2 separate regions of the Homo sapiens genome follow, and region 1 is linked to region 2. Evidence: fine-mapped expression QTL. Tissue or cell type: whole blood. Region 2 holds a variant in brackets; the other region holds the start of a gene. All regions are shown on one strand. Distances are between the middles of the regions.

Evidence for each region. PIP is the estimated chance that this variant, and not a neighbour inherited with it, causes the effect.
Region 1: it holds the start of EHBP1L1, and the variant in region 2 is fine-mapped to the expression of EHBP1L1 in whole blood (TOPMed, PIP 0.91).

Annotation. Positions count from the first base shown.
Region 1 is chr11:65,572,225-65,580,224 of GRCh38, reverse strand. It overlaps EHBP1L1 (EH domain binding protein 1 like 1), which reads right to left and starts at 4,172. Exons shown (of 19, transcript NM_001099409.3): 1 at 3,819-4,172; 2 at 1,090-1,147; 3 at 789-884; 4 at 236-289; 5 at 1-144. The coding sequence starts at 3,922. It overlaps FAM89B (family with sequence similarity 89 member B), which reads right to left and starts at 7,687. Exons shown (of 2, transcript NM_001098785.2): 1 at 7,265-7,687; 2 at 6,035-6,862. The coding sequence starts at 7,555. The coding sequence ends at 6,584. It overlaps LOC124902692 (a long non-coding RNA gene), which reads left to right. Exons shown (of 2, transcript XR_007062731.1): 2 at 1-269. RefSeq lists silencers at 2,553-2,847, 3,898-3,997, 4,058-4,117, 4,128-4,547, 5,568-6,087 and 1 more and an enhancer at 5,058-5,197.
Region 2 is chr11:65,480,804-65,488,803 of GRCh38, reverse strand. LINC02736 (long intergenic non-protein coding RNA 2736) reads left to right here and starts at 718. Exons shown (of 3, transcript NR_187301.1): 1 at 718-914; 2 at 1,184-1,278; 3 at 1,370-1,896. RefSeq lists enhancers at 227-898, 952-1,246, 899-1,570, 1-1,571, 6,716-7,310. The variant G/T (reference allele first, on the strand shown) is at 4,870.

The DNA.
Region 1 (8,000 bases), 91 kb before region 2:
AGTGAGGCTCAGCTCAGCCTGCACCACCTTCACTGACTTTGGCTTCAGCCGCAGCCTCACTGGGACTTGGACAGGCACGGGCCCTGCATGGCGGGCCAGGTCCACCTCGGCCGTGGCCAGCACCTTCCGCTGCCCCTTAGACTCCTGTGGGCCAGGGGAGAGACCAGGAGAAGGGGCATCAGTGCTGTCCCAGGGTCCCCAAGATTCCAGACCTGAGCCCACTCCAGACACTCACATTTTCAATAATAAATGTCCACTCTTTGGCCTCATACTGGTCCACGTGGGGGTCCTGGGAAGAAGGGTGCTGGTGAGTACAGGACTGTTGGGGCAGCAGCAAAGGGAGCAGAGCTTGTCTGGCTCAGGAGGTGCTTGGTAGTGGTGGCTTTTTTTTTTTTTTTGAGACGGAGTCTTCCTCTGTCGTCGAGGCTGGAGTGCAGGGGTGCGATCTCGGCTCACTGCAACCTCTGCCTCCCAGGTTCAAGCAATTCTCGTGCCTCAGCCTCCCAAGTAGCTGGGATTACAGGTGCACGCGGTGGTTGCTACCTCCTCCTGGGATGCACCCCAAGTTCTGGTCCCAGCTGCCTCTCATGCTGCATGTGTTGGGTAAATGCTGCCTCCTCCAAGGAGACCTCCTGGGCCAGTGATGCTGAGCAGGCCCCCCTAATTCTTGGCCTCACCCCCCGCATCCTCTTCTATCTGGATGAACAACCTACCAGGAGACCTGTGTTGCAATTGTTGCAACTGCCTGTGTTGCAATTGCCATCCATGCTGGAGGGCTAGAGACTCACCCTGTAGAGGGTCACAGAGATGTCCACATTCTCAGGTACCATCCACACCACGGTGCCCCGGTATGGGTTCTGGATGCCCGGCTGCCAGCTGTGGGCCTACAAGGGACAATCTGAGTCCTCCCCCCATCTTAACTCTTCCCTCCCACCTGCACCCCCTATCACCAACCTTGACACCATCTTCCCCTCCCCTCTGTGGATTCTGATCTGTGCTTGAACCTCACTCCACTCCCCCATCAGCCCCCATCAGCCTCCCACCGGCCCCCATCCCTAACCTGGATCCCCAGTTGCCATCCTTCCCCACCTTGGAGCAGATGCGTCGGTTCCGACGGGTCCATACCACCACCAGCTTATCTGGCTGCCTGGGGGAGGGGGAAGGGGAGGGAGAAAGGGAGCAGGCTGCTTGGTCAGGCTCACCTGCCTCCCCATCTCCTCTTCCTCCTCCCCCAGCTCCCTCAGGGTCTTCCTTCTGCCCACCTCCCCCTCCTCCAGAAGAGGGCCTGGGCAGCCCCTTATCTGGGGCCACAGGGTGCAGGGTGGAGCTGCTAAGGTAGGGTGGGGCCAGAGCAGAAGGGCAAAGGCCCAGACAGTGTGGGCAGGCAGGGACTATGAGGAAAGACAGCAAGTGAGAAAGGGACAGGCACATACAGAGACCAAGACACACAGAAACACAAGGACCTGGCAAGAGATGCCAGACACAGATGCACATGTGAGCATCGTGCACACACGCAGACTCCAACACAGGGAGAGACAAAGACGAGGGATAAAAGAAGTCCCTTCGCACAAAGATGTTTGTGGAGCGCCCACCATAAACCCAGCCCAGTTTTGGGGACAGAGGAGGGCAAAAGAGAGACAAGACCTTTCCGGTGAGGACAATGGAGGTGGGGGCAGACTACCAGTCAAGAAGGAAAATAAATTAACAAGCGAACTCCAGGGTGATGTGAGGGAACCCCTGGGGGTCTCCTTGAGGTTGGGTGTCTGGGCAGAGATGAGTGGCAGGGGGATGGGCTGTGTGAGGATCTGGAGAAAGAGGGAATGGCAAGTCCAAGGGTCTGCGGCTGGAGGGTGACATCAGAGAGAGGGGCAGAGAGTTGGGGGTGAGGCCGGAGAAGCAGCAGAGGGTCAGCCTGTCATTAACCAACACCGCCATCCCTCGCCCACCATGTCCAGCCCTTTGCTGGGCGCAGGGGTCCCAAGGAGGATCAGCTTTCGGCAAGATGATGACAGTGGAGCCTGGAGGGCAATCAGAAAAGACTTCCAGGGGGTGACATCTAAGCTGAACAGCATATGCCAGGTCAGACATGGAGGAGAGGCAGAGGCAAAGCCAGAGGACAGAGATGGCTGCGCAGGGCCCATTCCCAGGCACTGAGTGGACTCATGGCTGGGCCTGGGGGCAGAGGGCCCCTTGGGGTTAGATGTTCAACTGCTGCCCAGGAGGGGTGATGCTTGAGGGGACGATCCGGCCCAGGGCAGCACGCGAACTGGCCTTGCCTGTACCCAGCCCCATGCCTGCACCCTCTCGTGATGCTGGGGTTTGCCCAGCTCACTGTTCGTCTGAGGCCAAGCCAGGATAAGTGCCTCTCTGTTAACCCTGAGGATGCTGAGGCCCACAGAGGTTTGGAGCCAAACAAGTTTACACGGTTGAGCCTAGAGCCCTCCAACCCAGAGCCAAGTTCCCTTCCCCAAGCCCAAATTGCCAGCGATGGCAGAGCAAGGGTAACTAAGGGGCCTTCCCAGAAAGGGGAAGCGGACAGGGGGTGCCTAGGGAGGGCAGGGCTTGGCTGGGCAGCCTGACTCAGGCTGGGCACGCCCTCCTGGGAAGCTGCAACCTGGGCAGGGGCAGCTTCCCGGCCTGGGCTCCAGGCTAAGCAGCCCAGGAGGCCCTACCCACAGCCGCCTGTGACTCAGCTGCGTTGACACTGCCGGCACCCTCAGCCTGCTGTGCCCAGTGTTTCCCTGGCCTCCCGCAGGATGCTGGAGCAGGAGCCAGAGGCCAGAGTTCAAGTGCCAGCCCCCAAGCTCTCCCAGGCTCTGCTGAAAGATGTGAATGGCCCTCTAGCAGGCCCAGTGTGGGCAAGGCCAAGGATATGGCAGCTGCCCAAGGGACCCCAGCCTCCTGCTTACTCCCCTCCCCCTGGACCCCATGGTCCCTTCCTGCCCCAGCCCTTCCCCTGGGGAGCCTAAATTTAGCCCCGCCTGGCGGGTGAGGCCCCCACAGCTGTGCCCTAATCCAGCCAAGGGAAGCTGACACCAGCAAGCACGTATATTTAGGGTGTGACGCAGGGGCCTGGGCAGCTATGGGTGGCGGCATGTGAACGAGATGCCCCTGAACCTGTTGGTAGTCCAGGCTGGGGCCTGCACCCTCTGGTGAATCACCCCTCACCCTGCCACCTTGCCCTCCGCAACCCTCTCCTCCCGGACCCACAACCTCCTAGGTCCTCAGGCCCCTTTAAGCTGCTCCCCGCCTCCCTCCTCAATCCTCCCAGCACTCAGTTTCCCCTTTTAAGGACATTGTGGAGATGTTTCCAGCCTCCCAGCACTCTGGCTGAAGAGGCGGGAGTTGGAGGGGTTCTTCTGGCTCAACAAGATGGCAGGGGAGGAGGGGGCAACATCTCTGTTCTTAGCTGGACTAAGTAAGGTCAGGGAGGCTCCTGCCCCAGCCCTAGCCACCTGCAGACCTCAAAACTTGATCCCTTTTCCAATGCCACCCTGAACCACCTTTCTGGCACAAGACATGCGGCCTCCCTCCCCCAGCCCTGACCGCAGCTGAGGAAGGAGTGGACACAGGCAGAACCTCAGGCCTGAAAGTCCTGACCCCCGCGCAGGGAAGGCTGCCCACGCCCCCAACTCCAGGGGTCCCACAAATTGCAAGGGCACTTCTGAATCTCCGAGCCTGGGAACGGAACCAGGGCCCAAGCTGGGGTGGGGGCCCATTTGGTCATTGGGCTGGGGGGGCAGAGTCCTCTCAGGCTCAAAGGGCCGGATGAGGTCCCAGCAAGTTCGGGGGAGCCCCCCCGCCTCCCTCCCACTCACCATTTCTTGGTGCACTCCAACACTAGCTCGTGGTAACAGGCCACGAACTGGAACTTGGCCGCCCGCTTGCCCACGCGCTGCAGGCGCTTCCACACCGAGGTCATGGCCCCCGCCACCCCGCCGCCCACTTCTCAGGCCCGGGGCTCCCGCTGGCCCGCCACCGCTGGCCCGGCCCGGGTCCCCATGGCCTGTCCGCGCCGCCCGCCCCGTCCGTGCGGAGGTGTCCCAGGCTCCGACCCGGGACCGCGCTCTCCGCTGCCGCCGCTGGGGCCCGCAGGGTGGTCTGGCTGAGTCTGCGGGGTCGCCTGGGGCGCGTCGGGTGGCGAGCGCGGAGCTGGGAGCGCGCCGTTTCCTGGAGCCGCACCCCCGTCGGAAGGCGGGCGGGGCTCCGGCGCGGGGCGGGGGCCGGGGCAGGAGCGCGGGGGCGGGGCGACCCGGCTTCCGGGGCCTCGCGCCGCGACCCGGGAGCGGGAGCGGGGGCGGGGGAGGGGGGCGTGGAAGGGGTGTCGCCCGACCGCAGTGCCCGCTCGGTGCGCGCAGAGGCTGCGTGGAGAGAGGGCAACCAGCAACTTGGTGCCACCCTAGAGAGCGCTGCCCGGGCCGCCTTCCTTCCTGCCCGCAGCCCTGGGAGGTACGTACTACTGGCCCCCTTTCAACGGCTGGGAAAACTGAGACCCAGAAAGGGGAAGGGACTTGCTCAGAGTCATACTGTGAATGTGGACGAGGACCAGCTCTCAACTCCAAGGTGCAGCCACCCACGTCTTAACCAGAGCAGGAAGGCGTCAGTAACCTCGGTGGCCCAACCTCAGAACCTGACTCTGCTGTCAAGGGGGAAGATAATCCCAAACCCCGACAAGTAGCTGGAGAATCATAACTGACCTCCAACCAAGTGTGACTTTGGGCAAAGCGCTAACACTCTGAGCCTCAGTTTCAACGTCTATTAAATGGGGATAATTGTAGTTCCGCCTTTTAGGGAATCCCTGAGAGGATGAACCTCAGAAGGCATTTAGCAGAAAGCCTGGCTGATTTTGCCATGCCTCCTTATTAAATGGGATGCGCTATAATGGATGGGGAAAACGTGTCATTTTTGTGTATGTTTACTCTCCCTCCCCAGGAAAGCCTGCCTGGAGCGTTAGCAGCTGTGAACCCCTAGATTAGAGCCCTTATCGCCTACCCACCCGCCCTGCATGGTAATGAGCCTCTGCAGGTGTCAGCTGCCCTGGGGCAATAGGTCAGTTTGTTCCTTCCCGCTGCTCTGCAAGGTGTGTAAATGGACAGGAGCCCGGTGCGTGACTGCTACTTGGTTTAACGGGATGTCTGAGTGCCAGGACTGCCATCTGGGCTGCATCTCCAGGAGGCAAATGGCTGCAGCAGGGCGCGGGGATGTGCTGTTCGTCCGCACACCTCGGTGTGCGGCTTCACCTCTTTTCAGGAGGTTGTGAGGTGTCGTGTGCGCGTGTAGGGGGCTGAGTACCCACTGTCTCCGAACGTGCTGGCTTCTTCCGGTGGGCTTGACAACTGGGTTTGGTTCTCAGTCCCAGCGGTGTGGGTCCCCGGTTTCCTAAGAAACCTTCCACAGATAACTGTAAAGACCGCTAGTGCTGTGGGGAGAGCCGGCGGTCTTCACAGACTGAGCGGGGAATACGGGTCCCTGGAACCCCAATCAAACTTCACCGCCGCGGAGTCTCATGCTTGGCCTCCGGGAAGGCCCGAGGTGCCGCGACTTCACTCCCCTCGGCCTCTGCCACCCCTCCCTCCCACCCGCGGGGCGTGAGGTCCCAGGCCGTTCCCGGAGGCGCCTCCCCCGCCCCCGCCGGGGCCCCTTGCTCCGGCGACTCCGGCCACCCATTTCCTGCGCCGCCTCAACCCCGCCCCGCGCGGGGTGGAAAGTTTCCCTCCTCAAGGTGGGCGGCTCCTTCTCCTTCCTTCCCGGCAGGCAGGGAAAGCCCGAAGCGAACTGGGAGGAGGGAGCGGGGGACTCGGAGGTCGCGGGCGAGAGAGGGGAAGTGACTCGACCGCAGTCACCCGGCGGCTGAGCCAGGCTCGGCCAGCAGGCAGCGCCCCCAGCCCCGCCCCGGCGGGACGGCAGGGCCTTCACTCGGCGCGGGGCGGGGGGGGAGGGGGTCTCGGGCGCCACCTGCTGGCAGAGCGCGGGGCCGCACCTGCCACAAACACCGCGGTCTTCCCGCCCCAGAGCCAGCCAGGCAGAGCACAACGACGCTGAGTGTATTTATTTATCTACGCGCCCTGGAGACCGGCCCCTAAATTTAAATATCCAGCACGGGGCCTTGGCCCTCCTGGCCGTGGGTGGTTATTGGGACGGGTCCTGGAGCCCTTCCAGGGCAGAGGAACCCAGAGCCCGGAGGTGGGATGCCCCTGAGCCAGCAGCTGCCGATAGCAACAAAAGGTGAGGAGGAGATGGGAGCCAGGCACTCATCCCAATCCCAGAGACGCCAAGCGGAAGGGAAGATGCTTCGGGCCCCACCGCAAGGCTGAGGGTTGGCCAAGCTGGGGGTGCACACATGTGGAAGAACTGGAGGCCCAGTGCCATGAGCAGAGGCTGTACCCTAGATGCCCGCCCCAGTGCCAGCCAACCCAAGACAGGAGAAAGAGTTTGGCAGTTTCGCCTCTGAGGAATACATGCCTGGCCCTCCTGTGAGGTGAGGCGGTAGGGGGGAAGGCGCAGGCTCCGAAGTCTGAGGGCTTGCCGGAGGGGGAGTTTCTGAGCCTTTTGCATGGGTGCATGCCCCCTGCCCCCCAGCCCTTCAGAGGCTGATGTGGAAGGCATCCTGCAGCCACTGGTCACGGGCATTGTGCGTCTGGGGCACAGTAAGGGGTGGCGGGTCAGGAGGCAGGCTGGCATCGGGAGGCTCCTCGTCGTCAGACAGGCCCGCATCCGGTGGGTAGGAGCTGTCCGAATGGAGGGAGGATGACAGGTCCTGGCAGAAGCTCAGGTCTTGGCACAGGTGTTTGTAGTCCTGGATTGACTCGTACAGGCCCCACAGCTGGCACAACAAGGACATGTCCAACTGCCGCAGCCCCACCTGCAGACAACTGAGGGTGGGCTGGAGTTGGGGTCCAGGCCACCCCAGCCCAGCCCCGCCCCCTGGAATAGTGGGCCCCAGCCCATCTTCCCCGCACCTTCCTAAACGAAGTTTTTGTGGACATCAGGCACCACCTGCAAGCTATGCAACTTTAGTCATGACCCTCACCCAAAAAATGGGGTTATCCATTTAGCCGGATGAAATGAAGTAACGTCAGCAAAACATTTGAAAATATATGGTAACTACTGCCATAATTGGTAACTATCACTAATTATTGTTACCATAACCCTTGCAACCCAACTGGTGCCTGCAAGTCCTCTGAGACCCAGGCCGCCTGTCCCAGTCCCCTGCGTTCCTCCGCGTCAGCCCCCCGCCCAGCTGGCCCGGCGCCCACCCACTCACCATCTCCTTGCGCAGCGCGGCCAGCGCTGAGTCGAGGTTGACAGGACGACGCGGGCCGGCTGCGGGTCCCGCGTTGGCGGCGCCGGCGGCGTGGCGGGGCCCGTCCGGGGCGCGGGCGGCGCGGCTCAGCTCGTCGTGGATGCGGCTGCGCTGGCTGTAGACGCGCTCCAGCTCCCGCCACGAGCCCCCGCTCGCATTAAGGAGGCCGCTGAGGCCGCGCGGCAGCGGTGGGAGCCCGGCCAAAGCGCAGCCCGCCCCGCCCGGCGCCTCTGCCGAGGGCAGCCCGTTCATGGCCGGGGCCGGCGCGGACGGCGATGCCACCTCCTTCCCTCCAACGCTCCGCCCGGGCCGCCGCCCGCAGGCCCCGCACCCCGCGGCCCCGCCGGAGCCCAGCCGCCGCCCGCAGGCCTCGCTTTGTTCCTTCCCCAGCTCCTCAGACTCCGCCTCTGCCCCACCCCCTCTGGATGGGCCGGGCCTCTCTTAAAAAGGCAACGGTTGTGGGACCACGTCGCGCAAAGCTGAGAAAAGGCAACGGGACATCCACTCACTCAAGGGGAGATGGAAAAATGCGGCGGAGGGGGGAAAAGGCTGAAGGGGGCAGGCGTGGTTTCTTCACGGTTCTTTTTGCTACCCCGTCTCCCCGCCGCGCCCCGCCCCGCCCCCACACCCAAGGAAAATGATCTAACAGTGGAGTCAGGAGACTGGCAAGTCCACACTTGGTGCCTAACGTGCCACC
Region 2 (8,000 bases):
TGTGTGGCTTTTATTGCTGTTTGTCATTGTCACCTGTCTTGAAAACAGAGTTCATGTCTTATAGTTCTGCCTCAGCTCAGGACGGCTCTGCACATGACTTAGGCAGCATCCGCCCACACAGTCAGCCCATGCAGCCTTGGGCTGGTGCTAGGGGCTCTGAGAGGCTCACCCCAGTCCCAGCTGGTGGTCTCTGTGGATTCCCCAGCCAGATCAGGCAGAAGTGTTTGTGGTTTGCCCTCCCTGTCTGCCCCCAGCCAGAATTCCAACCTGGCCAGTTCTAAAAGCTGAACCGTGAAGACTCAGCCCTGCCTGGAGCAGCCTTCCCTGGAGCCTGGCTGACTGCACCCACCAGCCGTCAGCTCTGGCCTAGAAACTTAGGGGTCCTGGAGACAGCAGGTCCTGCTACCTCCCTGTCCTCCATTCAGCCTAAATGTCCACCTCCTCAGGGGCCTGCCTTCAGCTCACCTGCAGACCATAGAAGTCTCCCTGCTGTGCACTCATCCCCTGCGCTTTGGCACTCCCTACTCCGCCCCAGGTGTTCTGCAACATCGGTAGCATGACAGAGGGCTTCTTAGAGAGAGGGCGCCCTTGCTACCAGGGTCCACAGGCTCAGTCTCAGCCTGGTTCCTGTTTGTGGTGCCCCTTTCTCAGGCCTGTGGGGATGTCAGGAGCTTAGGACAGCGCCGGGCTCAAGAGATGTGGCTACCTTCCCTCCTGCTTTCGGTACTCAGCGCAGGCAGGGTTCAGTGCAGCAAGTAACAGCTGTGGCTTACTGGATTGTCTGCAACCATTGGCGACTGAGAGATCCCTGCAGCCCTCCCAGACCCTCGATCTGACTGGAGCCAGGCCCACGTGGGGAAAGGGTTAAACGTTGGCAGTGACTTCACCCCTGCATTGGAGCAGGCGGAGGCAGAGTAGGTAAAAAAATCAGGACAGAGGCTGGTTGGAATTTTCCAGCGTTCATAAACAGGACCAGTCAGGGTTGCTAAGGGAGGTCACCATGGAAACGGTCACGTGCGCCTGCCTCCTGGTTATTCCACCCTGGTCAGGAGGATGATGCAAGCTCCGAGCCTCTTCATTGGCTGCCACCTTCCTCTTGCCACCGAAATCTGGTGGGAGATTGGCTGAGGACAGTTGCTGGGCTGGAGCTAGCCTTTCCCTTTCTCCCCCATCCCTCCCACAGGAACCTGCTGGAAGCTGTTCTGAACCAGAGAAGGATGAAAATAGCTGCCAAAGATGTTGCCATAGCAACTGCTTTCCTTCCTGACCTCCTTGGAAGTTAGTAGTTGACTTTGCAGTTGAAGTACTTTTCTGAAGGCAGAAGAGGCTGTCAGCCATTTTATACTGACCTAACTTTCTTCTCTTGAAGGTGAACTCCCTCATTTTCCAGAGTAGTCAAGGAATTTCTGTGCCTCTACCCATGGCTTTGGTTACCAACTCATCCCTGGGGGCCTTGGTTTCTTTCTGTGAAATGGAATATTCATTCCAGCACTCACCACCTTCTAGGCTGGAGTAAGGCTCCAACTTTGCAAATGCTGTTAGTAAACTGTAGAGCTCCGTGCACTTCCACGTGTCTTTACTTGACCAACACTGACACTCCCTTGGGCTAATGGCTCTATAAATTGGAGGATGGGGCAGCTGACTTGTTCAACAAGCCCAGAGCCCCAGGACAGAGGACCCCTTTGGAGTTTGATTCCTGTTCTGTCACCAAAAGCCCCTGGGACCTTCAGCAGGTCACGCAGGCCCCCAGGGACTCATTTTCTCCTGTAAAAGGACGCCTCTCTAGTTAACTCAAGAGGCCCCTTCCAGCTCTGACATTCCATGACCCTAAGTTAAAGGCCAGCCTGCTTTCCGTAATAAATCTGTGGAACTTACCATCCATATAGGAGGTGAAAATGCAGCTATGCTGCACTGAGTCCTTTCTACATGGCAGGCACTGCGGCACATGCATTCACTGAATTTTCACGGAAGATAACTGTCATGATTACAGCACCTACCCATTTTACAGATGAGGAAATGGAGGCCCAGAGAAGTTAAGTAAACTTGCTCAAGGTTGCACAGCCAGTAAATAGCAATGTCAAGACTTAAAGCCTGGTGGTCCAGCAGCTAGTCCACACAGCTGTCTTTCTAGGTACTGACTAGAATGACGAAAACAACATGGGTCAGTTCATAGCAGGTAAAACGTTGAGTGGAGCAAACCCTGGACGAGGCACCAGCAGCCCTGGGTTCTACCCTAGGCTGTGCCATTTAAGTGGCACCCTGTTACCTCCAGCAAGTCACTCTTCCTCTCTTTGTCTCAGTTCTCTCATCTGTAAAAATAAGAAGTTAACCGGCTGGGCATGGTAGCTCACGCCTGTAATCCCAACACTTTGGGAGGCCGAGGTGGGCAGATCATCTGAGGTCAGGAGTTCGAGACCAGCCTGGCCAACATGGCGAAACCCTGTCTCTACTCAAAACACAAAAATTAGCTGGGTTTGGTGACATACGCCTGTAATCCCAGCTACTTGGGAGGCTGAGGCAGGAGAATCGCTTGAACCCGGGAGGCAGAGGTTGCAGTGAGCCAAGATCGTGCCATTGCACTCCAGCCTGGGCGACAGAGTGAGACTCCATCTCAAAAACAACAAAACAAAACAAAAAATAAAAATAAATAAATAAGAGGTTAACCCAGATCTCTGAGGGCCTTTCTGCACTAAACACTCTTAGTCTTTGAGAGAAAGCAGCCCAGAGAAGACAGGTGCCAGCTTGTCCGAGTCACAGAGTGAACAAGCACAGCCTCACTGGCTACCCACTAGCTTTGATCTCAACCTTTGAAACAAACAAGGTTTGGGAAGGGTTGTTTGAACCTAGGGCCCGTGAACCAGAAACAGTCCCTGGGAGCGTCGGCTGTGACTTTTCCAGAAAACTAACTACATCCCATTTTAAGAGGGTCCTTTATTCAGAGATTAAGCCTGTGAAAGGAAAATAAATCTTGGAATCCCAAAATCACTAAGCCAAGGGAAAAGTCAAGCTGGGAACTATGTCAGGCAAACCTGCTTCCAATTTTATCCCTAAATAAGATAGCTACAAAGATTTATTAAAAAAAAAGCTACATGCCTCCCTCACAATTTGCCCACAAGGAAATTCCTTGTGGACAAAGGACAGACAGAACTCAAAATCATCCCTCCGAGGCTCACGTGAGACTAATGCATATCGGATTGCTTCCCCTGACCTCTGATTTCACTAAACCAGACTAAAGCAAAAGTGACTACTCCTCTGCCCTCCTCTCAAATGTAAATTGCGTATTAGGTGAAAGGCTAATCAGAAACTCAAAAGAAAAGAGTGCAACTCTTTGTCTCTTATCTACCTCCCGAGGCTGTGTCATGGGTGTGTCCTTAACCTTGGCAAAATAAACTTTCTCTTTTTTTTTGTTTTTTGAGACGGAGTCTTGCACTGTCGCCCGGGCTAGAGTGCAGTGGCACGATCCCGCCTCACTGCAACCTCCACCTCACAGGTTCAAGCAATTCTCCTGCCTCAGTCTCCCAAGTAGCTGGGATTACAGGCGCCCGCCATCATGCCCAGCTAATTTTTTGTATTTTTAGTAGAGACAGGGTTTCACTATGTTGGGCAGGCTGGTCTCAAACTCCTGACCTCAAGATCCACCCTCCTCAGCCTCTCAAAGTGCTGGGATTACAGGTGTTAGCCACCGTGCCCGGCTGGCAAAATAAACCTTCTAAATTGGTTGAGACCTGTCTCAGATATTTTGGGTTCACAAGCCCTTCTTGTATCTTTGATGTTATAAAGACTTTTTTCTTATGAAACGGTGGTGACAGTGCAGGGTAATTTTGTTATAATTTTGTATTTGGGAAAAGTTGGCTCACCGTTTGTCAGTATTTCCAATACTTAAAGATGTTTTGTTATGGAAAATTTCAAACATAAAAAAGTAAAGGCCAGGCGTGGTGGCTCACATCTGTAATCCCAGCACTTTGGGAGGATGAGGCAGTCGAATCACGAGGTCAGAAGTTCGAGCTAACCTGGTCAACATGGTGAAACCCCATCTCTACTAAAAATGCAAAAATCAGCCAGGCCTAGTGGTGCATGCCTGTAATCCCAGCTACTTGGGAGGCTGAGGCAGGAGACTCACTTGAACCCAGGAGTCGGAGTTTGCAGTGAGCCAAGATCACGCCACTGCACTCCAGCCTGGGTGACAGAGCAAGATTCCGTCTCAAAAAAATTCTCAAAAAATAAAATAAAAAGTAAAAAGAATAGTTTAGGGCCAGGCGCGGTGGCTCACGCCTGTAATCCCAGAACTTTGGGAGGCTGAGGCGGGTGGATCACCTGAGGTCGGGAGTTCGAGACCAGCCTGACCAACATGGAGAAACCCCATCTCTACTAAAAATACTAAATTAGCCTGGCATGGTGGCGCATGCTTGCAATCCCAGCTACTCAGGAGGCTGAGGTAGGAGAATCGCTTGAACCCGGGAGGCGGAGGTTGTGGTGAGCCGAGATAGTGCCACTGCACTCCAGCCTGGGCAACAAGAGCAAAACTCTGTCTCAAAAAGAGAGAGAGAAAAAAAGAATAGTTTAATGAATCCCCATGTTATTCATACCCAGCTCCAACAGTTACTAACTCCTGCCACTTCCCTTCCATCTAAACTCCCAATCCCTTGAAGGGGATCAGAATATCTCAGCCCCACCAAATGCTACTTTGGTATAAGGATAATTCTGAACTGAGGCATTTGAGATCGGACAGATGCAGAGAGAGCCTTTCTGGAACTTTCCTTATCTGACTACAAGCAAAAACTCCTAGAAATGAGGACTGCCATAAATATCCTCTTCCAGGAAGGTTTATGGTCATGAAGACAGAAAGTCAGGCCAGGCACTGTGGCTCAC[G/T]CCTGTAGTCCCAGCACTTTGGGAGGCCGAGGCGCGCGGATCACGAGGCCAGGAGATCAAGACCGTCTTGGCTAACACAGTGAAACCCCGTTTCTACTACACACACACACACACACACACACACACACACACACACACACACACAATTAGCCGGGTGTGGTGGCGGGTGCCTGTAGTCCCAGCTACTCGGGAGGCTGAGGCAGGAGAATGGTGTGAACCCAGGAGGCGGAGCTTGCAGTGAGCCGAGATCATGCCACTGCACTCCAGCCTGGGCGAGAGAGCAAGACTCCGTCTCAAAAAAAAAAAAAAAAAAAAAAAAAAAAAGGACAGTCGGCACTGAGATGAAACTGCACAAACAAATCTTACTAAATTCAGAGTGATCTTCCACTAGTTTTCCCCATATATTTACCATCCCACGGTTTTGTAGCCCCCAGAAGCTTAAAACCGTTTTCCCTTTGCCTTGTCACATCTTCACGATGTACTGCTATCTTGAAAATGATATGTAAGCTCTCAGGCCAGGCAGTAAGAGGGTGGAAGAAAGTGTTTCTTCTTTCTTTGTAACCCCCATTACCTGGAGTATTTTGAAACAAACCATAACTATTTTTATTTTCTTTTTTTTCTTTTTTTGAGAAGGAGTCTCGCTCTGTCCTCCAGGCTGGAGTGCAGTGGCATGATCTCGGCTCACTGCAAGCTCCGCCTCCCGTGTTCACGCCATTCTCCTGTCCCAGCCTCACGAGTAGCTGGGACTACAGGCGCCCGCCATCACGCCCGGCTAATTATTTTTTCTTTTTTTTTTTTTTTTAGTAGAGACTGGGGTTTCAACGTGTTAGCCAGGATGGTCTCGATCTCCTGACCTCGTGATCCACCCGCCTTGGCCTCCCAAAGTGCCGGGATTACAGGCGTCAGCCACTGCGGCCGGCCTATTTTTATTATTTTTTCAATTTGCAAAACAATTTTTATATAATCAAAATCCTATTAGCATTTTCACACCTAAAAAAATTAACCGGGGAGCCTCTCTGAACCTATTCTGGTTCAAGGACTGCCTGAAAACAAAACAAAACAAACAGAAAACTTTTTTTTAGTATTAATCTTCAAATACACAGTTTGCCTCAATATTTTTTGAGAGTTGGTTTGTTCAATCAGGACCTAAGTGGAATCTGCACATTTCCTTGGATTTCCATGTCTCTTAAGATTCTAGCATACTCTATAGGTTTCCTCTCCCCACCTTTTTTCCCCCTGAAATTTATTTGCTGAAGAATCTGGGTGGTTTGCCTTTGGAATTTTCCACATTCTGGATTTTGCCCATCATATCCCTGTGGTGTGGTATGACATAGTCTTCTGTTCCCTCTGCATTTCCTATAAACAAGTGATTAGATCTAGAGGCTTGATCCAACCTGGGTTCCCCTTTCTTTTTTTTTTTTGAGACAGGGTCTTGGTCTGTCACTCAGGCTGGAGGGTAGTAGCACAATCATGGCTCACTGCAGCCTCAGCCTTCCAGGGTGAAGTGATCCTCCCACTTACCACAGCCTCTCAAATAGTTGGGACTACAGGCGCACGCCACCACCAAGCCTGGCAATTTTTTTTTGTATTTTGTGTAGAAATGGGGTTTTACAATGTTGCCCAGGCTGCTTTTTCTTTTTCTTTTTCTTTTTTTTTTTTTTTGAGATGGAGTTTCGCTCTTGTTGCCCAGGCTGGGGTGCCATGGTGCAATCTCAGCTCACCACAACCTCCACCTCCTGGGTTCAAGCAATTCTCCTGCCTCAGCCTCCCAAGTAGCTGGGATTACAGGCATGCACCACCACACCCAGCTAAGTTTTGTATTTTTAGTAGAGACAGGTTTTCTCCATGTTCGTCAGGCTGGTCTGGAACTCCTGACCTCAGGTGATCCACCTGCCTCAGCCTCCCAAAGTGCTGGGATTACAGGCTTTTTTTTTTTTTAAAAAAGAATATTTTATAGATGATGTTGAAGTCATTCGATTAAAAAAAATGTAAACCAGAAAGCCGGGAGCCACACTTCTCTGATGGGAATTCAGTACATCCATTCCTCTTTGGTTTTAGCCATCGCCCCTGGGTCTGGCCAGAGCCCCCACAAAGCTCTTCTGTAGCCTTGCAGAGCTGCCCTTGCTGAGTCATTCCTTGGCATCCCACTCTCTGCTGATGCTGCTGATTTGGATGCTCAGTGAACAATGCCCTTAGTTAGGAAAGCTGCAGTCTGTTCTCATCAGCCACCACATCCCTATATGGAGACCTGTATGAGAAATTCCTTAGATATTAACTGCCAGCAAAAAATTTCCTTTCTCTGAGGAACTGGGATGCTTTTTCCCTAGAGGCAAGAAGAATCATGCAACTACCTTTGTTCCTCTTCCTTTCTCTTTGGCTCACAGAAGCTCAAAGCAATAACTGAGGCACAACTCTGGCAGTCGTACAGGACTCTGGCCTTTTTCCTTGGTCTTATCTTTTAGGTATGCATGAATTTTCTCTGCTTGATTCTTATTTTATTTCATATTTATTTATTTATTTATTTTTGAGACGGAATCTTGCTCTGTCGCCCAGGCTGGAGTGCGGTGGCGCAATCTCAGCTCACTGCAAGCTCCGCCTCCCGGGTTCATGCTATTCTCCTGCCTCAGCCTCCCAAGTAGCTGGGACTACAGGCACCGGCCACCACGCCCGGCTAATTTTTTGTATTTTTAATAGAGACGGGGTTTCACCGTGTTAGCCAGGATAGTCTCAATCTCCTGACCTTGTGATCCACCTGCCTCAGCCTCCCAAAGTGCTGGGATTACAGGTGTGAGCCACCACGCCCGGCTTATTTTTATTTTTATTATTATTATTTTTTGAGACAGAGTCTCACACTGTTGCCCAGGCTGGAGTGCAGTGGCACGATCTCGGCTCACTGCAACCTCCGCCTCCTGGGTTTAAGCGATTCTCCTGCCTCAGCCTCCCAAGTAGCTGGGATTACAGATGCACGCCACCTCGCCTGGCTAATTTTTGTATTTTTAGTAGAGATGGGATTTTGCCATGTTGGCCAGGCTGTTCTTGAACTCCTGACCTCAAGTCAGGATCCGCCCACTTCGGTCTCCCAAAGTGCTGGGATTACAGGTGTGAGCCACCGTGCCTGGCCATCTCTGCTT